3 linked regions of the Homo sapiens genome follow. The protein of the gene in region 1 purifies or fractionates together with the protein of each later gene. This does not show direct contact. Each region holds a gene or a part of one and is shown on either strand. Other genes may lie near its edges.

The links.
Region 2: the proteins of CIMIP4 (region 1) and MAN2C1 purify together in Homo sapiens (affinity purification with mass spectrometry; 3 studies listed by BioGRID and IntAct, with this or other methods). This does not show direct contact.
Region 3: the proteins of CIMIP4 (region 1) and RTL9 purify together in Homo sapiens (affinity purification with mass spectrometry; one large-scale study listed by BioGRID and IntAct). This does not show direct contact.

Annotation. Positions count from the first base shown.
Region 1 is NC_000022.11:36,997,758-37,001,404, forward strand, and holds part of CIMIP4 (ciliary microtubule inner protein 4), read right to left. Parts: intron 2,228-3,647; coding exon 2,083-2,227; intron 1-2,082.
Region 2 is NC_000015.10:75,358,534-75,362,180, reverse strand, and holds part of MAN2C1 (alpha-mannosidase 2C1), read left to right. Parts: intron 1-233; coding exon 234-326; intron 327-460; coding exon 461-577; intron 578-799; coding exon 800-895; intron 896-989; coding exon 990-1,135; intron 1,136-1,492; coding exon 1,493-1,616; intron 1,617-1,969; coding exon 1,970-2,091; intron 2,092-2,192; coding exon 2,193-2,278; intron 2,279-2,405; coding exon 2,406-2,561; intron 2,562-2,742; coding exon of another isoform or gene 2,743-2,755; coding exon 2,756-2,853; intron 2,854-2,989; coding exon of another isoform or gene 2,990-3,027; coding exon 3,028-3,122; intron 3,123-3,372; coding exon 3,373-3,477; intron 3,478-3,562; coding exon 3,563-3,647. UniProt on the Homo sapiens protein: Cleaves alpha 1,2-, alpha 1,3-, and alpha 1,6-linked mannose residues on cytoplasmic free oligosaccharides generated by N-glycoprotein degradation pathways.
Region 3 is NC_000023.11:110,357,591-110,361,687, reverse strand, and holds the start of RTL9 (retrotransposon Gag-like protein 9), read right to left. Parts: upstream 2,841-4,097; 5' UTR 2,772-2,840; intron 1-2,771.

The sequences.
Region 1 (3,647 bases):
AGTAAAGACCTTCCAGCAGGCTTCACGACCCAGCCTGTTTCCTCTGATGTCTTCTGCCTCACTCCTGTGCAGCCATACCAGCCTCACCAACCTCAAACAGCAAGTATAAAGGCTAACCCTGGGTGGGTGGAAACAGAGAGGGACAGATGGATGGGCACACTGACAGCACTGTGTGGCAGGGTGAAGCCCTGATTCATAGTGTTTGCCAATTTCCAGAGTGTAAATACTACTAGCATGGCCAATTTTAAGACAGCATTTATGTGCCAGTCAGTTCAGAGAGACAATTGCCTCTTGTGAGCTGGTGCAATTTGCTATGAGCTCCAGCACACCCTTGGCACAGTTCTACTTCCCAGGTGGGATGATGGGACATGGACATTTTTAAAAATAGATTATTTTACATTTATGTAGACATTATCATACAAAGTTGTATGGAATAGCTATTTGGTGACCGATAGTTGTTAAAGAGAGAACTGGAAGGCAGGATCTGGAAGGCCCGGAACAGAGAACAAGCAGAACTGTATTCTCGCTTTCCTCCCTGACACCATCCCTTCTCCAAGCTCAGAGAAAACTCCAGAAAGGCTTCCAGTGGGCACCTGGTTCCTCAGGTGACAGGGATCCGAGCCAGGTGGAAGAGGTTTGTCAGGCCCTGGGAGCACTGGAGAGGGCCTGGAGTGAGGAGAGAGGAAGGAGCCATACCAGAAACAGCCTCATTTTGCAATGAGGCCAAACCAGAATGTGGGGCAGAGAGAAGCCCCTGCGTGCTGTGACAGGCATCTGAGCCATCCAGAAGACCCTGGGAACAGGATCATAGCTAGGGAGGTGACTTAGTGGTCAAGAAAAGACTATGAGGCTTTGAAGGCAGAAGGAACACCTGACTTTGAGTCCTAGGCACAATGCAGACTACTGAGAGTTCTAAGGCAAATGATCTGAAATCTGCCCGTGAAATGGAGCTAATAGCACTCTCCCCACCCCAACCAAACAGGACTACACTGATCCAATGGAAACCCTGTGTAAATGTCAGAGCCTCCAACCCACCCTTCCTTTCTTCCCAGGTGGCGCCACCTCCAGGCTCTGGAGAAGAAAAATGATAGCCTGACAGCTACTGAGTGCTCACGACTTGCCTCGGCCAAGCACCTTCATGTGGCACTTCATAAAGTCCTGCCAATGACCCAGCAAGGGCCATACTCTCATTATCATCCCCACTGTACCGAGAAGGCAGCGGAGGCTTGCAGAGGTTGAGGATCCCACCTAAGGTCATACCCAGCTAGTGAGTGGCTGAGCTGAGCTTTGAACCAAAGAAACTTGATATTGTCACTGTGACCAAAGGTGCCTGGGATGGGGCTAGGGGTGTGGGGAGCAGCAGTCCCAGTTCTACTGGGTCCTGGGCCTCCTACTGGCAGATTAAGAACAAGAGGTGGGGAGGGCGCAGTGACTCATGCCTGTAATCCCAGCACTTTGAGAGGCCAAGGTGGGTGAATCACTTGAGCCCAGGAGTTTGAGACCAGCCTGGGCAATATGGTGAAACCTTGCCTCTAGCAAAAATACAAAAAAAAAAAAACAGAAAAGAAAAAAATTAGCCAGGTATGGTGGCGCGCATCTGTGGTCCCAGCTACTTATGGGGGCAGGGGGGTAGCTGAGGTGGGAGGGTTGCTTTCTTGAGCCTGTGAGGTGGTGATTTCAGTGAGCCAAGATTGTGCCACTGCACCCCAGCCTGGGCAACAGAGTGAGACTTCAAAAAACAAAAGAAGGGAAGGAAAGGGAAGGGGAGGGGAGGGGAGGGGAGGGGAGGGGAGAGAAGGGGAGGGGAGGGGGGAGGGGAGGGGAGGGGGGGATGGGAGGGGAGGGACCAGAGGTGCCTGACTGCCAACTGGGATGAATCATCCACACATCAAGGACAGGGGACTGGATGTTCCCAGCACTCGCAAGCTGACATAGAGGACACATGGGCATGAAATAAGTGTCCTTGAAGATGTGCCCTGGGGTCCTAGACCCCATATGGAGTGGAAACCCCAAAGGCCTTCCCTGCCCAATGCCTGGGAGACCATGGGTGTTCACGGCCCCACCCTTGCCCTTTGACTTGACCTCGAAACAAGTTTGACCGCATGTTGTAGCCGAGGTCATAGTAGTCTGAGAAGACGGAGGAGATTTCCACAGGATTCTGGGTCCTGCTGGGCCATGAGCTTGCCCTTTTCTGGCCCTCGAAGACTTCATCAATAGCCTTTTGAGCCTGAGCAGGGAGGCAGGGATGACAGACAGGGGATGGAAAAGCAGTTTCAAGCCCCATATCTCCCTCCAACTCCTCCTCCCTTGACCCTGCCCTCCCCACCCCGATCCCACCTGTAGCCTGCAGCCCTCAACCTATTCACAGGGCTGGGGAGCTGGGGTATACAAAGGCCCCAGCCCCAACTCCTCTCATCATCTGCACTGCTGTGGGTGGGGGGCATCAAGTTAATGATCATAAAACCTCTTCCAAGCATTGAGCATCTGCTACCTGCAACATTGGGACGGGGGGTCTCTATAGGGTGCCACTCTTCCCACCATTTTATAAATGAGGAAAGCGGGCCTCAGGAGACCAAAGATCACCCAGTTCACATGGCTGGCAGGGCACAGAGCCCTGGCTTGCCTCCTACAACTGAGGCACCACACAGGGCAGCTCTGGGTGGGTGCTTAACTTTCAATGAGGCCAACTCCCTCTTCATACCAATAGGGAAACTGACACACAGAGAAGCTGAGCCCAGGTCCAGGGGCAGGACACCTAGGTTTGAGTTCCAGTTCTGCAATATATCAGCTGTTGACTTCAGCAAGCCTCTTCTCCACTCTAGGCCTCAGTTTCCCTACATGTAAAATGTGAAGGCAGGGTGGAACTGGATGGTCTTTGAAGTGGCTTCCAGCTCTGACACTTGCTGGCTCAATGACACTTGTGACATAAGTTACAGATGGGCAGAAAACACGGATTTCTTGATTCCAGCCAGGGACAACGGTGGCTGAAGAGAGAAAGGACTTCTCCCAAGGCTGGGCAGGGTGGTGAGAGGTGGTGACCACAGAGTCAACCTCAAATTGGGACAAGTTCCTCCAAGTGGGGCAGAACATGTCAAGACTGTGACCTTCCAGACTTGCTGGTGGTGGGGTCACTGCACTTTAAGATGACAGAGTGGAAGGGGAGCCTAGGAGAAGCCTGACCCCCAGCTTTTGTGACCCAAGCAGATCGTAGCCCCTCCTTGGGACTTGGTTATACTATCTGTTATAAAGGAAGCAATAACTCCTGCCTGACCTTCCACACAATGCAGTTGCTATGAGGGTTGAGATGGTGGCTTTAAAAATATGTCTCAGAATGCCAGGACAGAAAGAACATAGCATTTGACCAGAAACGGTAGATGAATTTTATCTCGTGTCAGTTGATTTGTAATGACTGCCTGGAATGCTATATCGGGTGGAAAAGAGTGCTGGCATTGACTAGTGATGTCTGCCATGAATGCAGGCTGGGAGGGTTGTGATACGCTCACCATGTATTTGTCAGCCTGATCTAGTGCAACTGCCTCGCTTTACAGATGTGGAGACTGAAGCCCAGAGAGGGTAAGTAACTTATCCAAAGTCATCCAGCATTTAGGATCAGGTCCAGGATTCAAACGCACGTCTTCTGATTCCCA
Region 2 (3,647 bases), on another chromosome or scaffold:
CAAGGGGGAGGAGAGCCTCCAGCGCTGTGACAAGTTGCATGGCCTAGTCCTGGGCACCCCCTCAGGCAGATGGACAGTCAGGCCTGAAGGACAGGGGCCCTTCCTGAGTTCTGGCTGTAACTCCCATGTTTGAGCAGCCCTGGCTTCTCCTGCAGGGATTGGGTTGGCCTGAGCGCCTGCCTGCTCCCCGTCCAGCGCTGACCTGGGCTGCCTCCCACTTCCTTCACTGCCAGGATGGGAACCTGCCCAGTGGAGAGGCCATGGTGAGGCAGTTTTTGCAGGGCCAGAACTTCTTTCTGCAGGAGTTTGGGAAGATGTGCTCTGAGGTAGGCTGAGAGCTGCTACACCAGGCTGTGGGCGAGTGGGGCTGGCGCTCGACTTGGAGTGCTGAGGGGCTGAGGCTGGGGTGAGTCCGCCTGGAGCTCTGGTTCCTGCACTCCAGGATCCTCTTTCTCCACAGTTCTGGCTGCCGGACACCTTTGGCTACTCAGCACAGCTCCCCCAGATCATGCACGGCTGTGGCATCAGGCGCTTTCTCACCCAGAAATTGAGCTGGAATTTGGTGAACTCCTTCCCAGTAAGCAGGCCCCCGGGGGGTCAGGGTCAGAGTGGGCCTCAGTCCCGCCTGGCCCATTTGCCTCTCCCCCTTATTGTGGGGTCCTAGACAGACCACCAAACCCTCACTCTGCCTCTGCCAGGGTCACATAGCAGGCAGGGGCAGGACCAAGTCTGGAAGGCCTGGCTCTGCCTCAGCCCTGACTCTGGCCTCTCTGCCCTGCTTCTGTTTCCCTGCTGGTAGCACCATACATTTTTCTGGGAGGGCCTGGATGGCTCCCGTGTACTGGTCCACTTCCCACCTGGCGACTCCTATGGGATGCAGGGCAGCGTGGAGGAGGTGAGGGGTCACCTAGGGTGGTGGGGTAGGGGCAGGCTGGAGAGGGCTGGCTTGTTCCAGGCTGATCCATGCTGGCCTGCCCTCACCTGTCTAGGTGCTGAAGACCGTGGCCAACAACCGGGACAAGGGGCGGGCCAACCACAGTGCCTTCCTCTTTGGCTTTGGGGATGGGGGTGGTGGCCCCACCCAGACCATGCTGGACCGCCTGAAGCGCCTGAGCAATACGGATGGGCTGCCCAGGTCAGGCCAGGCCTTGGCTCTCCTTTAGCCCCACCCTGGGCCCTTGCCATGAGCCCTGCCTTCCCTCAGACATTGGGCCCAACCCCTCCTCTGGACCTTGTCCTGTCCCAATCCTAGACCACGGGTTCCTCCAAACTTCCACCCTGGGGGTGGGTGGGGGAGAAGCTGAAGCTGGTAAGGGCTCCAGCCCATCAGAGAGAGAGGCTCTCCTAGGGCGTCCAGGGCTGGCCATCTGTGAACGGGGAGCTTTCTGGAGTGGCTCCTCTCTGTAGGAGCTGGATCCTTTGCTTTGGTGTGGAAGAAGGGTGAGCCATGTGGTCTCCAAGGCTGGGAGACCTAGGCTTGTGGTCTCCTCAGGGTGCAGCTATCTTCTCCAAGACAGCTCTTCTCAGCACTGGAGAGTGACTCAGAGCAGCTGTGCACGTGGGTTGGGGAGCTCTTCTTGGAGCTGCACAATGGCACATACACCACCCATGCCCAGGTCAGGGGGAGGTTGCAGGGCTGTGCAGGGAGGGTGTGCCCTTGATCTGCAGAGGGTCAGAGAAGGCAGCAGGGGACAGAGCCCAGGCCAGATCTAGGGGAAGAGAAGTTTGGAGGAGAGAAGTTCAAGACCTGGGTTGGTCAAGAAAGCTTGAAGGAGGCAGAAACCCCTGAAGAAAGAAGGGTTTGGGCTGCGGGGAGAAGAGGGAAGGCATTTAAGGCAGGTCACCCGCCAGAGGCCTTCTCCACGAGGCCCTTGGTGAGTCCTCAGGGATTCTGAGCAAGGGAGGGCTTTGGAAGGTGTCCTGGGACAGCTAAGCAGGCTCCAGACTAATCTTCCCATCCTGGGCTCAGATCAAGAAGGGGAACCGGGAATGTGAGCGGATCCTGCACGACGTGGAGCTGCTCAGTAGCCTGGCCCTGGCCCGCAGTGCCCAGTTCCTATACCCAGCAGCCCAGCTGCAGCACCTCTGGAGGTCAGCCCAGTTCTGTCCCTGCCATCCACCTGACTGCTCACTGCAGTTACCTCTGTGCCTGCCCCTCCCAGCCTTCCCATCCCTGCCCTTGGCCCCTGCAGGCTCCTTCTTCTGAACCAGTTCCATGATGTGGTGACTGGAAGCTGCATCCAGATGGTGGCAGAGGAAGCCATGTGCCATTATGAAGGTTAGGCTCACAATAGTCCTGCCTGCTCTCTCCAACCCCAGGGCTGAGCCCAGAGTGTCCCCTGTGGGATACCCATGGGCACATTCCAGACCTGTTGCCCACCTATGACCAGCCAGTCTTTCCTCAGACATCCGTTCCCATGGCAATACACTGCTCAGCGCTGCAGCCGCAGCCCTGTGTGCTGGGGAGCCAGGTCCTGAGGGCCTCCTCATCGTCAACACACTGCCCTGGAAGCGGATCGAAGTGATGGCCCTGCCCAAACCGGGCGGGGCCCACAGCCTAGGTACGAGCTGAGGGGAAGGGTTGCTACTGCAGCAGGAAGGATGGAGGCCAGACAGATCAGGCCTGGGATACCCCGAGGGATCTGGGTGCCCCTGACTGGAGAGTAGTAGCACATCTTCCACCAACCCATCCCCACCTGCGCAAGCTTCCTGAAAGGTCAGGAAGGCTGCACTGATGCCCAGGCCTCACCCCCAGCCCTGGTGACAGTGCCCAGCATGGGCTATGCTCCTGTTCCTCCCCCCACCTCACTGCAGCCCCTGCTGCCCCAGCAGCCTGTGTTCGTAGTGCAAGAGGTGAGTCCTGCATGCCCTGGGGGGCAGGAACTGTGCTGGGATACTTTCTTACAACTGAGGGTCCTGAGCTCCCCTGTCTGGAGCAAGTGGTGAGGCGGGGCTGGGGTTGGGGTGGGAAGACTTTTGGTGTGGGAAGCCCCTACAGACTCAGCCTCAAGGCCTCCTCCCACAAAGACTGATGGCTCCGTGACTCTGGACAATGGCATCATCCGAGTGAAGCTGGACCCAACTGGTCGCCTGACGTCCTTGGTCCTGGTGGCCTCTGGCAGGTGCCAAATCCTCATTGCCCTTTCCCAGTGCCTGGCAAGTAGACCCCAGGCCATTTCCTCTCTCCCCTTGCCACAACACTGCCCACAGCAGCCCACCAGTGGCTCTGGGCTGGAACCCACACATGGAGCAGGGCAGGCTGGGCAGTAGTCCCCTGTCCACTGGGTCTACTCACTCCACCCTACCCCACCAAGAGCAGCTGGAGACAGCGAGGTCAGTTGGTTGTACAGCACCAATCCCATGTCCTTCCAGGGAGGCCATTGCTGAGGGCGCCGTGGGGAACCAGTTTGTGCTATTTGATGATGTCCCCTTGTACTGGGATGCATGGGACGTCATGGACTACCACCTGGAGACACGGTATAGGCTGGGCAGCATGTGGGGATGGTGGAGGTGGTGGGAACACAGGCTGCTCTGGATCAGTATGTCCACCCCTGTCCCATAGGAAGCCTGTGCTGGGCCAGGCAGGGACCCTGGCAGTGGGCACCGAGGGCGGCCTGCGGGGCAGCGCCTGGTTCTTGCTACAGATC
Region 3 (4,097 bases), on another chromosome or scaffold:
AGAATGGCGAGAAGGCGCTTGCAATACTAAATATGGTAATCAGAGAAGATTTTACCAAGTGGGATATTTGATCCATCACCTGAAGGACAGGAGTATGTCAATATCTGGGTTGCATACAGCATTATGGGCCATTATAAGGGGTTTTGTTGTTACTGAGTGTCAGATGGGAAGCCATTGGAGGAGTTTTGAGCAGAGGAGTGACATGATCTGACATTCACATAATAAAATTATCCTGGTTCCAAAAAACAGTGAGAGAATAATAGGCTTGAGTGATGGTGGCAAGAACAGAAGCAAGGAGAACAGTTGAGAGGCTAGTGCAATATAATCCAGGAAGCAGATCATTGTGACATAAACCAGGATAGTAGCAATGAAAAAGTGGTCAGATTCTAGATATATTCTGAAGGTAGAACCAATAAGATTTGCTGATCAAATAAATGTAGGATATGAAAGAGGGAAAAATCAAGATTGATTCCTAGGTCTTCCGCCTGAGCAACCGGAAGAATGAAATTGGTATTTAGGGAGACGGGGAAGACTGTGAGGAGCAGGTTTTGTGAGTGCAGCAGGTTTTGTTGGGGGTTGTGGGCAGGGGCAGTTTTGAACATGGTAAGTTGGAGATACCTATTAGGCATGCAAGTTGATATGTCCAGCAGGCAATTGGGCATAAAAGTATGGAGATACAAATTTGTGACTCATCAGCAAATAGATAGTATATTAAGCCACGAAGATCGGAGCATCACTAAGAAGATAAAGGACAGAAGATATCTTAGGCTTCAAGCCTTCCTCTACCTTTCAACTCCAGAAGTCAGTCCGTGACAAAATCCTATCAATTCTTCCTGTATAATGTCTCTCAATTCACCATTTTCCTTCCATTCCCACTGCTACCATTGTAGTCCAGGATCTCACCTTGTCTTACTTGGCTTTTACAATAGCCTCCTAACTGGTTTCCTTGCCTCCAAATGTCAACTTGAAACTCATCATCTCATTTGTCCTTCCCCTCCAAAAAAATCTTTCTACTTCTCCTGGGCTCTCTATCTTAAAGAATGGCATCACTATTCATAAGCATTTGCTTAAACTTGAAAATTTGAAATCCTCCTTGTCACCTCCCTTTCTTCTACTCTCCATTATGCAATTCTATTACCAAACCCTGACATTTTTACCTCCAAAATATAACTCAATTCTGTCCACCATTCTCTGTCTCTATTACTATCAATCTAGTTCAAGATAACATCACCTCCCACCTGGACAATGGTAATAGCCTCTTGACTACTCTTCTTCCCTCTAGTTAATCTCCCATATGAAAACCAGTGGAATCTTTCTAAAACAGTGCTATGCATATTTTGCCTACCTATTCTGTAGGTCCACAGAATAAAATTCAAAAGCCCTTCATCATTTGCCCATAACTTTTCTTTCCAATGGTATCTACTATGGCTTCTCTGGAAATTCCCCTCATTTCATCCCTGTGGGCTTGTCAGTGGTCTTTAGACCCACCATGACCACAGTGTGCCCCCAATACCTAGTGCAGACCTTCCCAAACATATTACAAGTGTCTGAGGCTATGAGATTTCTTCTCTGTCCTCAACTGAGCCCAGAGACAGTGCTGTTGAAACTCCTAGAATGCTTGCCTCTAGATGTCAAACTGCTTCCTCCATTCAGCCTAGTGTGCTTTACAAATACTATGCTTTTCTCTGCATGCCATGACACAATAAAGGTTGTGAAGGACTGCTTTAATGCACACCATTCCCAGAGTTTGGAAAGTGCTGCTCCATTCTCTTCTCTAAGTTCTAAGTACCCTTCTATGCCAAGTTCAAGTCTCACCTTTCTGATAAAGCAGTCTTTGATGCTACATATCCAACCTCAAAATTCTTGTATGATGTGACCAGACCACTCATTTGGCACTTAGTATATGTGCTGCTATTTAACTTTTTATGGTGAGACCTTATCTCTCTGTGTTGTCTGTTGCTTAAGAGCAACAATTTTTATACCGACTTTTGCACCCAGGGCCTTACCATACAGTAAGACACTCAGTATATTTTTACAATATTAATGAATAAATTAATTAATGAATAGATAGTTAAATTCCATCAGATGGTGCAATGGACAAGAACATTAGATTCAGAATCAGAGAATCTGGATTCTAGTGCACTTTGCCACTAGATGGTTGTGTGAGACTTCAGGAAAGTTGCTTGCCTTAGTTGCCTCATTCACAAAATAGGAACAATACTTCCCATTGTGACTTCCCAAGTTGAGATGGGATAATTTATGGAAAAAATATTTGGCAGATGAAAAGAGCATGTCGTTCATGAGTAATGCCAAAAGAGGCAGTGTGGAAGATAAAGAATGAGCTCAAAGAAGCTGCAGAAAACATTAGAGGGTTCATGGGTGAAAAAAAAGCCAAAGGGGTAAGGGAAATTTGCTAGCAAAGTAGACTTGCCCAGGAGTGATTGAGAAAGGATGATAAACACAGAAGAAAGAAAAATCAAGTTTCTGTTGCGAAGCAGTATAACACAGCCACTAGATCCAGACTGCCTAGGTTCAAAGCCTGGCTCTGGCACTTAACCAGCTATGTGACCTTGAACAAGTTATTTAACATCTCTGAACTTCAGTTTACTCATATGTATTATGGGGGCAATAATAATGCCTATTTCCAGGGAAGTGTTATAAGATGTAAAGGAGTTAATACTTATAAAGTACTTAGAGCAGTGCAGACCAGTGCCTAGCATATAGAGCGTTATAGAAGAACGTGTTAGATAAAATAATAATCTTCTCCTTACCAGGCAATACTCCAGTCCTCATGGCTGGCACTTTCTCCTGGGACCTGGAGCAGGGCTCACGAAAGTTCTGACTTGCTCTCCAGTGGGCACGTCTCCTTTCCACATTCCAGAGCCCAGTCCTCTGAGCTTAGCCTATCTCACTGCTCAAAGGACACTATGTTTCCCAGCCTACAAAGTTTCTTTTCAATTCTTTAGCCTTTTTCAAAACCCAATAGAGTTCCTTGTGAGAACAGATAGGAGTGAATTCCATAAGCTCCCAGAAGCAAATACAGACAGTATAATCTAATCTTTTAGAGCAATGGCTTTGTAATCAAGCAAAAGAGAGTTTGAATCAGGGCTCTGTAAATGACCAACTGAGTGACCTTGGACAAATCCAAGGTCTGAGCCTCAGCTTGCTTGTCTTCAAAATGAGGCCTCACAGGTGGTTGTCAGGATCAAATGAGAAAATGGACATGATGCATTCAGTATAGGGCCTGGCATGTGGTAAGCACTCAGAAAGTGTTAGCTCTTATCATTAATAATTCCTAGGATTATGGGTCTCGATTTTCCCAACTCTAGAATGTAATTTAATAGCACTATAGCTCTTATCCACTATTCCTCTGTCATCTCAATTTGACCCTTCCAAACTAAAAAGGTGCAAAAAAATATTCTTGGTGTGATAAGTTGACAACACTCTGCATTTTACACTCCCTTTGAGGTTTATGCCCAGTTTAAAAGAATTACAGAGAAAGAACCCGCAACTCTAAGTATGCTTCAGATTTCCATATGTCTGTAAATGCCTCAAAGACAGCAGTGGTCCTCTTAGCCTAGGGTGAACATCAAAATCACCTATTTTTATTTTTAATTTCATTAAATATAATTCTTCTGATAAAATGGCAAAGAATTTTTTTTCAAAATCCTTGCTTTTACCCTAGAAATGATACTCCTCATGAAACAAATGTCCAATGGGGAGACAGAGGGCCAGGCAAGTATATTTTGCAAAAGTTATCCAAGTCAGTCTCGTAAACACCCCTGATGTGAGAGAGGGACTGGAACATGCATTTGGAGGATGAGGCCAGGGTCTTGCCTTGAGAAAAAATCCAAGAAGGGCAAGTATAACCACTCTGCTTCCCACACAATGTGGGTATGTAGAAACATGCCCTGCACCCACAGGGAAGAGCATAGTATTTTCTCCTGCATGCATTAATCACAGAGGATTTCCCTCCTATAGTTATACAAGCATCATCCTTGACACATCAGTTGGAGAACTGTACTCAGTGAGAATACAAGATTCATCCAGCTTTGAAAATGTAACTATATCTAACAACTGGATTAAATATATTTCAT